3 linked regions of the Homo sapiens genome follow. The protein of the gene in region 1 interacts with the protein of each later gene in a pairwise test. Each region holds a gene or a part of one and is shown on either strand. Other genes may lie near its edges. The genes, in order: TCEANC, C1QTNF2 and FAM217B.

Region 1 (3,654 bases):
TTAATGTATTTATGTATAAACAACCAAAAAGCACTTTGCTCTTCATTTTATATGTTCTTTTATTGACCTTTTCTTCATATTTCTTTAAAAAATTTTAATTGTGATAAAATATACAAAACATAAAATTTACTGTGTTAAGCCCTTTTTTTTTTTTTTTTTTGACAGAGTCTCGCTCTGTCGCCAGGTTGGAGTGCAGTGGCATGATCTCGGCTCACCGCAAACTCTGCCTCCCGGGTTCAAGCAATTCTCCTGCCTCGGCCTTCCGAGTAGCTGGGACTACAGGTATGCGCCACTACATCCAGCTAACTTTTTGTATTTTTGGTGGAGACAAGGTTTCACCATGTTGGCCAGGATAGACTCGATCTCTTGACCTCATGATCCACCCACCTTGGCCTCCCAAAGTGCTGGGATTGCAGGTGTGAGCCACCACGCCCAGCCTGTCTTAAGCCTTTTTAAGTATACAGTTCAGTAGTGTTATGTACATTCTCGTTCCAGAGGGGAGGTGGGTAGAAGGTGATTGATTCATTGCTCATACCATTTTTCAGTAGGTATATCTTAAGTGCATATAGTTTATCATGAAATTGCGTTAGACCAATAACTTTTCTGATTATGAAAGCAATACATGCTCATCACAGAAAATACAGAAGAGGAAAATAACAAATGAAAATTACCTAAAATCTTACCATTCAGAAAATGCCCCTCTTTAAAATTTTGTGTATCTCTTTTCAGTCTTTTCACATGTAATTCTTAAATAAAATTTGGATCAAATTCTATTTTTAAATAACACCTTTATTCAGATGTAATTCACGCACCATACAGTTCACCTAAAGTGTACAATTCAGTGTTTTTTAGTATACTCAGTTGTATAACCCATCACCACAAATAAATCTTGAGAAGATTTATGTGTGCCACCACCTCCCAAGAAAATCCCTGAACTTTATCAGCTGCTCCTCCTCCTTCACCCCACTGCCCTTCTGCCCTACCCTACCTAGTCAACAACTGATCTATTTTCTGTCTCTATAGATTTGCCTGTTTTGGACATTTCATGTAAATAAAATCATACAATATGTGGACTTTTCTGTCTGGCTGCTTCTGCTCAGCATAATGTTTTCAAGGTTCATCCATGTTGTAACTGTATCAATACTTCATTCCTTTTCATGGCAGAATAATATTCTGTTGTGTGGATAAATCACATTTTATTTATCCATTCATCAGTTGATGGACATTTCGATTATTTCCCATTTTTGGCTATTGTGAATAATACTGCTATGAACATTTGTATACAAGTTTTTGTGTGGACATATGTTTTCATTTCTCTTGGATCTGCTGGGTCATATGATAACTGGTTTATTCATTTATTTATTATTATTTTTTTTTAGACAGAGTCTTGCTGTGTTGCCCAGGCTGGAGTGCAGTGGCACGATCTTGGCTCACTGCAAACTCCGCCTTCCAGGTTCATGCCATTCTCCTGCTTCAGCCTCCCAAGTAGCTAGGACTACAGGTGCCCGCCACCACACCCGGCTAATTTTTTGTATTTTTAGTAGAGATGGGGTTTCACCATGTTAGCCAGGATGGTCTCGATCTCCTGACCTCGTGATCTGCCTGCCTCGGCCTCCCAAAGTGCTGGGATTACAGGGTGAGTCACCATGCCCGGCCCATATGTTAACTGTTTAGTCTTTTATATAGTTTTACATCTTGATTGTTTTTCACCTAACTTTATGACCATTTTTCCATGTCGTTAAATATTATCTAAATACATGATTTTTAAATGGTTATATTACTGTATCCTAGGAGTGTGCCATATTTTTAACCATTCTCCATTTAACCATTTGAGGGCCTTCTAATTTCTCCTTAGAAGAAAATTCTTACATATGCAGTCTCCACATCTCTCATTTCCTTAAAGTAAATTTATGGAAGTAGAATTACTAAAAGGTCATTATGTTTTATGTCACTTGTCATATGGTGTCTGGGAAGACTGCGTGAATTCTCTCTCTAAACACTTCAGTGTTCTTAGCCTGTGTATGTTCGGTGGTGATTATTTAATATCAAGTGCTATAAAACAGAGCCCATGGATTTTTGAAAAGACACAGTCCCTGCCATCAAGATGCTTATGTTCACATTTAGACCAGACAGATAAATATAGATCCAAGGGTATTATATAGACAAGATTATGTACATTATGTGGAGGGAAAAAATAGACTGCATAGATAAAAGTAAACATTTGCCTGCCTAGGATGAAATTCACACAGACATAATCATTGAGCAACTCTTTACACTTAAAAATTTTTTAAAAATTAACAAAACCAAAATGTAAGAACCAGTTAGTCTAAAGTCATAAATCATCTGGATCATTGAGTCTGAACCTTTCCCTTGTTCAGAAGACTCCTAAGGCAGCACAGTGTAGCCTGTTGGCTTTTGGGACCCGCAGACGTATCTCTAGCTGCTTTTCAACCTGTGCTGTCTCACATTTTCCTTAGATTGCTTGAGACATTAGCAAACCCTTTCTGTCTTGTTTCTCTTTTATTTTCAGAAGAGTACCACTTTAAAGATTATGAAATGAGCAAGTAGTTCAGTTATATAGCTGACTCTGGGGAAAAATTGTCTAGCACTGTTCAGCATTGCCATATTGATGCTGACACCGGCATGATTTCACCTCCAACATGACCACCGGATTCCGCCCAAATGGATTGACTAATCTAGAAAGATCATTGATTTGTAAAATTGGAGGTGGAAAAGCTATAGCAGATCCTCCGGCAAGCCTCTTAAGCAGATGTTATGTAGAGGCTCTGCAATGCTGTTTGTTTGTTTTTCACTCGTAGGAATTAAACTCTTGAGAGTAAACCATACCGTCACCTTAAAGATTCCATTTTCTAGCGTGTCGCATACATTTGTATTACATGACTCTTTCGGAAAACATTGCCTAGGTAACTGACAGAAAGTGCTATTTTAGTATCCAGAAGCTGCGACTAGCAACGGCAAACTTAAGAAAACTGAAACCTCTTTTTTCTTTGCAGCTGTAAAGATGTCTGACAAGAACCAGATAGCTGCCAGAGCTTCTCTTATTGAGCAACTGATGTCCAAAAGGAATTTTGAGGATCTTGGCAACCACCTTACTGAGCTAGAAACAATTTATGTGACTAAGGAGCATCTCCAGGAGACAGATGTGGTCAGAGCTGTGTACAGAGTCCTCAAAAACTGCCCCTCTGTGGCTTTGAAAAAGAAAGCCAAGTGTTTGCTATCAAAGTGGAAAGCTGTTTATAAGCAGACTCACTCCAAAGCGAGGAACAGCCCTAAATTATTTCCTGTGAGGGGTAATAAAGAAGAAAATTCAGGACCTTCTCATGACCCAAGTCAGAATGAGACACTGGGCATCTGCAGCTCGAATTCTCTGTCTTCCCAAGACGTTGCAAAACTCAGTGAAATGATTGTGCCTGAAAATAGAGCCATTCAATTGAAACCTAAGGAAGAGCATTTTGGGGATGGTGACCCTGAATCCACTGGCAAGAGATCGAGTGAGTTGCTGGATCCCACAACACCCATGAGAACTAAATGCATAGAGCTTCTTTACGCAGCTTTAACTAGTTCTTCCACAGATCAACCCAAAGCTGATTTGTGGCAAAACTTTGCAAGAGAAATTGAAGAGCATGTTTTTAC
Region 2 (3,340 bases), on another chromosome or scaffold:
CTGGGCTCCGGCCCACATCTTCCTGGCTTCATCCACAGAGCAAATCTCAGAACAGCCAATTCTCCTTGGCCACATGCGTATCCTGGACCAATTCCCTTGACCAAGGAGGTGAGGTGCCTCCATTTGCAGGGCAGGCTCATGGACCCACCCCTGCGTGTGTGTGAGTGGGTGGTGGGGGCAGTCAGTCATTGTGACTGACAGCCCCGCTAGGACCGTATGAAATGAAATGGTGAAGGGCAACTCCCCAAAGGAAGGGATGCCAGGCAGACGGCGAGCAGAATGGATATACTCTACAGACCTTTCCGTTGTGACATTCCTTATATCTCCAAACTTTCACCCCAGCAACCAAGCACTTTTCAGTGTCAGCAGCATCCCTAAGCCTACATTTTAAGCAGTAGAGAAATATAATAATTTTTATTTGTATGGCATTTTAATATTGACAAAGCACTTTTGAACATGTTGCCCATCTGACCATCCATATCGTGTGCCGGAGGGATTCTTATTTTCCCCATGTTACAGATGAGGATACTGAGAGTCAGAGTGATTCAGTTGATAGCAAAATGTCATCCTCGCAAGAACGTGAACTTTGGAAACAAACCTGGACACTGATTTTGACAAACTACTTAACTTCTCTCCAAACCATGGTTTCCTCATCTCTAAAATATGGATAATAATAGCACCTGTCTCACAAGGTTGTGGTAAAGATGAAATAAAACAATGTATGAAGGACCAGTCTCAGCATAGACATACAATAAATGTTAGGCACCCTGTAATTGACTTATTGAGCTCACATAGCATGCAGATAGCTGACTCCAAATCCAGGTCTTTTCCTACCACACCAAACTAATTCCTTCAAAGGTACCTCCTCCCCAGGAGATTAGTATAAAAGTAACTATCATAGCTTTAACTGGGGTGGGTCTTCCAGCGTGCTGGGCACTGGTATCATGATATCCAATTTCCTGACCACGGCGGCAGACTCAGGTCTGGACATGTGCTCCAAGCAGGCCAGCTAGAGTTTTCCCTGAGATTTGCCTATGGATCCTGAGGGACAGAGTCTCTGCTGTTGACTTCCCCAAATAGATAAAGCTTACCAGGAAGTTCTACCATGTACTGGGGCTGCCTTTGGCCATCTGTTCTGCTGTGTGTTGAGTCTCTGCAGAGAAGGAAGCCACCACACCAAGGAAGGCAGTGTTGGGAGAGTCCCAGCGCATGTAACTCAAACAAAGCTTGTCACCCTGGGGCCAATTCAGGATAACATCCAACCACCCGCCATCACCACACATACAAATTCACCTCCAGAAAAGTCTTTCAAGAGTAAAGTCAGCTTTTCCCAAAGTCTCTCAAAAAAGGTAAAGAAGAGGAAAGCACATTATATAATACATGGTAGGACCTCCTGGTAAGCTTTTTTATCTATTTGTCTCCCGCCAAAAACCCCAAGTCAAAATGACTTGGAGGCTGCGTGGTGGCTCATGCCTGTAATTTCAGCAGTTTGGGAGGCCAAGGCAAGAGTACTGGGAGGCCAGGAGTTTGAGACCAGACTGGGCAACATAGGGAGACACCATTTCTACAAAAAATTTTAAAATTAACTAAGTGTGGTGGTGTGTGCCTGAAGTCCCAGCTACTCAGGAGGCTGAGGCAGGAAGATTACTCAAGCCCAAGAGTTTGAGGTTACAGTGAGCTATGATCGCGCCACTGCACTCCAGCCTGCGTAACAGCGTGAGACTCTATCTTTAAAAAAAAAAAAAAAAAGATTCTGTCTCTATTCCTCTTCTCTTGGCCCCTTTTCCCACCTTTTGTTTATTTTCATTTTTTCAAGAAATAGCTTTGTGACTTTTCTGAGTTTTATTTTTTCCCATTCTTTTTGTTTATTTTTAATTATATGAGTAATATACAAATACAGTCTCATTGTAATATATTCAAACAATACACATAAAGCAAAAGTCCTCCTTACTTACTACCCCTTCTCATCCTTCCCTCACCCTCCAGAGGTAACCACTATTAATTGGTTAGGTATGTATCTTTCCTGGCCTTTTTCTATATATTTACATATGTATTTAATAATACCAGGCATTGTCAGGCACTTAACATAAGCACTCTGTTCCTGAAAATCAAGTGTTCAGTAACAAAATGCAATTTGGAAACCTATTTCCGAATTATGTAAAATAGGAAAAATTCAGATGCATTACAGATTAACTCAAAACTCTAAAACACAGTGAAATGCCTACATACAAATGTATAAGAAACAAAGTAACTTGTTAGGATGTAAAATGCCTAAAACTTTACTTCCTTGACCCAGTTCATATGGTTCTAACAACCTTGTGTCGAGTGAACTCAAGTCATTATCCATATAGGTTTTGCTTAAAATGTTGTATTGAGTTGAGGGGACATAAACTAAATTGATTTTATGCAATCAGTAGCCAAAAATGTTGGATTGAGAGAAATGTGCATTTTATGAAACATTGGAGTATGAAACATCAAAAAGCCTTCTAAAGGAAAACACAACTGGGGGAATTGTTCTGCAGGGAATGCCAGCTAGTATTTAGGAATGTTTGCTATAGGCCAAGCACTCTTCTATGCGTTTAAATGGGTGTAGAAATATTTAGCACTGTGGGCCAGGTGTGGTGGCTCACGCCTGTAATCCCAGCACTTTGGGAGGCCGAGGTGGGCAGATCACGAGGTCAGGAGTTTAAGACCATCCTGGCTAACACGGTGAAACCCCATCTCTACTAAATATACAAAAAATTAGCCGGGCGTGGTGGCAGGTGCCTGTAGTCCCAGCTACTCAGGAGGCTGAGGCAGAAGAATGGTGTGAACCTGGGAGGCGGAGCTTGCAGTGAGCGGAGATCGCGCCACTGTGCTCCAGCCTGGGCGACAGAGCAAGATTCCGTCTCAAAAAAAAAAAAAAAAAATTGGCATTGTGGATTCCATTCCTTTTGTTTTTCTAATTTTTATTTTTTAGAGACAAGGTCTTACTCTGTTGCCCAGGCTGGAATGCAGTGACACAATCATAGCTCACTGTAACCTGGAACTCGTGGGCTCAAGGGATCCTGTCACCTCAGCCTCCCAAGTAGATGGGGCTAAAGGCATATGCCACCATGCCTGACTAATTTTTGTATTTTTTGTAGAGACTGTCTGGCTACATTGCCCAGGCTGGTCTCAAACTCCTGGCCTCAAGCAATCCTCCAGTCCCAGCTTCCCAAAGTGCTGGGATTATAGACGCGAGCCACCTTGCCCGGCCTGCCTTCCTTTTAACACAAAGGGTCTGGCCACCTGCTCTTTCCTCTTAGTGTATGTTAGAGAAGGTTTCATAGAGCACACGTAACTCTACTTTTTTTTTTAA
Region 3 (3,754 bases), on another chromosome or scaffold:
CCAGGGGACCTTGCAGCAGAAAATTAGGTCAGAGGACTTGGAGGGTGGTGAAGAACAACCAGATAGATGTGAGAGCCCAGCAGGGAAATGACAGGAGGCGCAGCTTAGGTGTGGAGGCTCCAGGTGGCCGGTCCCCGCGCGGCTCAGATGAAGTGGATCCAGCTCTCTTCGCACTCCCCGCGAGGCATGTGCAGCGCGTGGTTGCGACATGTGAGGCTGTAGTCTCGGTGGTCGTTGTTGTCCCAGTACTCGGCACCCGCCACTTGGTAGCGCACCGCGAAGTGCACGCGGGAGCCGAGCTCCAGCAGGAAGGGCGGTACTGGAAAGCCGAAGGTGAAAACGTCCTCCGTGCCCTCGGGGCCTGCGGGCCCGCGCCACCGCGCCACCGCCTCGTGGGTACTGCGCCAGCCCGAGAAAGTGTAGCGCACAGCCACCTGCTTCTCGAAGGCCACGTTGCACACGCGCACCGTACCGCTGATGCCAAGGTCCGAGCAAGTGACACGCTCCAGGCACACGAGCTGCCGCTGCAGGCGCTCGCCAAAGTCGGCGGCCTCGACGGGCGGCGGGAAATCGGGCACCAGGCAATGCAGGGTGAACTCCAGGTCCTGGCTGCTGCAGCACAGGTCCGAGTTGATTGCGAGCCGCGACAGCACGTGCAGCGGCACGGACGGGTCGTCTCCCGCGTTGAACACCTTGACCTGTGCCAGCTCCAAGCCCAGGGCGTCGGCGAAGCGCACGCGGAGCTTCTGGCTGCAGCCCGGCCGACACGCAGCGCCCGGCGCGCCCGCGGCCTTCTGGCGGCGCTCGGGGGAGCTGGGCAGTGAGCGCGCCCGCCGCAGGATGATGGGCCGCAGGCGGGGGTCGCAGCCCGACGGCGCTGGCGTTGGCGGCGGCGCGCGGCCCGGGCTCCCAGGGGGCCTACAGGCCCGCGGCTCCAGGGCCACGCCGCCGTCCAGGTCCGACAGGCAGCTGAGGCTCCGGGGGCCGAGCTTCCGGGATCCCAGGGCGCTAGGCAGGACCGCGGAGCTCGGGCCTCTGGACATGGCCCCGCCGGCCGTCGGAAGATGAGGCAGGGATGAGAGACGACCTCCCGACCCCGCGACAGCTCCCTCCGTGCTCAGAAGCCGCAGAGAGTCCACCGTATCTGCAACCTGCGGGGGACCTCTCGGGCCCGGTGCGCCCTACCCTTGGTTCGCCACCTTGCTCCTCGAGTCCTTGTCCAGGTCCTCCGCTTCTTGCGGTTAAAGAAATTGTAAGAGTGGGGAGTTTTTCTCTAGTGGAAGCTTTCAGAGGCCTCCCGGGAGCGCAGGGTAGCGCCTCTTTTTTCTTCTTGCTTCCTTGGAGGTTCTTACAAGAAGGCTGCGTTCCGGGAGCGGCCCCTCCCACTTTCCCGGTCCGCGGCGTTACTTACAAGGCTGCAACTTGACCGGGTGCAACTTCCTAGCGAGCCTCCGCCCCGCCCCTCGTGACGCCGCCTGCAGGCGGGCCCCCGCCGGCCTCAGCTCAGCCAGGGAGCTCAGCGGAGCTGCGCGCCTCCGCCTCCAGCTCCCCTGCCGCAGCGCGCCGCAGCCGGGCGTCCCCGCGCGGGCGCCGGAGAGGAAGGAAGGCTGGCAGCCTCGTCACGTGTCCGCTGCAGTCGCGAAACAGGTCTGATCAATTTCTGTTTACGTCTGCCTGGATTGCGCGCCTATCGATCATAGACTTTGTCTGCACAAACGGAGGACAAGGAAAATGCATGCTGCGTGTCCTTAGATTTCTGGGTTGTGGATGGGGGGAGCGGTGGTGCAAAAACCGGCCTTGCCAGGAGCTGGTCTCAGGCTAATTTTAAACATCGAGGCCAGCCCACACTTTGGACAGGTTCACTGCAACCTGGACCCTTGGTCAGACCGAGGGAGCCTCACTGCGTAGAGGAGCAGCGTCATGTCCACATCACCCAGAATGCTTTGCCGCACCGAATGGCCAGCAGATTCCCTTGAGGGTGGGGAGGGGAGGTGCTGCTGTTGTCTTCCTGGACTCCGCGCCAGAGAGGAAGACAGGGGAACAAGAGTTATTACCCGCTGATGACTTCTGCAGCTGCCCTTAATCAGCCTCTGGCGCTTGGGGAGCATATTTGTAGCCAGAATCTCCGACTTTTAGCTTTGTTTCCAAGCAAGCCAGAAACACCAGCAAGGCCTGGAGCTTGTTTTCTGCCTATTTAGAACCCTGCAGGCATTCGTGTCTCTCACCCGGTAGCTTTGAGCACAAAACCCCACAGCCTTTGGTGTAAAGCATACCAGGTGAAATGAAGTAGAAAAGATGCAAGTGCACTTTCCAGAGAGCAGTTTGGGGCCAGCCATTCCATTAAGAAGGTTCCTTTTTATTGTCCAGAGGGACAAAGCAGAAAGAAAACCAGACTAATGAAAGGGGGTTGATTCAAGAACATTCGTTGCATCTAAAATGAGTCAAGGCTGTTGATTGTGGTATAATTCATGAAATGTGAGAGAATGATTTTATTTATCATTGGATGTAAGCTAACTAAAAAGGCTTACATGATTAATGTGGGAAAAATACAGGAAAGTTTCAGGAAGAAAATAAAAATCTTCTATAATCATCTCTTTTATTTTACAGAGACAGGTGATACGGGAAAGAGAAGTATCCAATTTCCATTCAGTGCACTTTTAATAGGCCACTCAAAATGAGAGGGGAATAACAGCAATATGTGGTATAGGTCAACAATGCTTCATAAAGAGATGATATATAATATGTAATATGTATGAATATATGGAAAGTCTTATAATGGATTGATGTGATAGAGAAGGCCGAAAAATTGAATGGGAACGTTCCTCCTAGAGTTTAAGCTCCTTCTGAACAGGGACGTGCATAATCATTGCCATTTTTCTGGGTACTCCTGTAATTATTTGTTGCATGAATGAATGATTGGGCAATGCAATGATTGAACGCTGTAATAAGACCTGACCTTATTTAGCCTTCCAGATTTCTTCAACATATTATTTCCAAGGAAGATTATACCTGTGTGTGAACAGGGAGAGAGAGAGAGAGATGGAATCCATTCACAGTATTTATAGTAGTGTGATCCTGTGATCCTGTCTCTAATATCTACTGTAATAAGCAGAAAAGACAAAGCTGTAAGCATAAGACAATGTCTCCCTTCCCCAGTATTTCATAACCTAGAGTGCAAACCACTATATGATCACAGCCTTAATATTTCAATATTATACAAGTATTAAAAAACAAGTGAAAAACCAACCCGATACTGGTGGTAGGACCATTTGCAATCAATAGTTACTGACAGTATTCTGTTGCTTCTAGTTCCGGTGGTGAGGAGACCTTTCCAAATATAAGAGGAATAAAGAAGTCACCTCCCCAGCTGTCATCATCTTCCAGCAGATTGAGCAAGAATATTTTGAGCACTACAGGAAAGGTAATGTAAACTTAGAAGAAAAATCTGACTTAGATTTATTCTGGGATTTTTGTTTGTTTGCTTGCTTGTTTCTTGTGTACATGTTCACAGTGTTTATTACTGCATCCCTGTTTTTAGACAGTCCATCAAACCCGAGATGATGATCAGCCACGTGATTTTTTCAAGAAGAGGAATAGGGTGAATGAATCTCATCAGAAAAGCAGGTAAATAGTTTTAGTATAATTGCTTTATCTTGCAAAAGACTCATTATCTCTGTTGTCCAGATTGAATATGTGGAGTGGGGAAAAAAGTATGTCTATAGATAAGAAATATACATTTATAATTTTTTTCTAG

What was found.
Region 2: the proteins of TCEANC (region 1) and C1QTNF2 interact in binary tests that used the Homo sapiens proteins (3 or more experiments, as listed by UniProt).
Region 3: the proteins of TCEANC (region 1) and FAM217B interact in binary tests that used the Homo sapiens proteins (3 or more experiments, as listed by UniProt).

What each region holds. Positions count from the first base shown.
Region 1 is NC_000023.11:13,659,487-13,663,140, forward strand, and holds part of TCEANC (transcription elongation factor A N-terminal and central domain-containing protein), read left to right. Parts: intron 1-165; 5' UTR 166-200; coding exon of another isoform or gene 201-282; intron 283-1,544; 5' UTR 1,545-1,636; intron 1,637-3,014; coding exon of another isoform or gene 3,015-3,022; coding exon 3,023-3,654.
Region 2 is NC_000005.10:160,350,320-160,353,659, reverse strand, and holds part of C1QTNF2 (complement C1q tumor necrosis factor-related protein 2 isoform 1 precursor), read left to right. Parts: intron 1-3,340. UniProt on the Homo sapiens protein: Involved in the regulation of lipid metabolism in adipose tissue and liver.
Region 3 is NC_000020.11:59,938,889-59,942,642, forward strand, and holds the start of FAM217B (protein FAM217B), read left to right. Parts: upstream 1-1,500; 5' UTR 1,501-1,647; intron 1,648-3,309; 5' UTR 3,310-3,421; intron 3,422-3,538; 5' UTR 3,539-3,624; intron 3,625-3,754. Other genes in the region: PPP1R3D (protein phosphatase 1 regulatory subunit 3D), read right to left, coding at 144-1,043.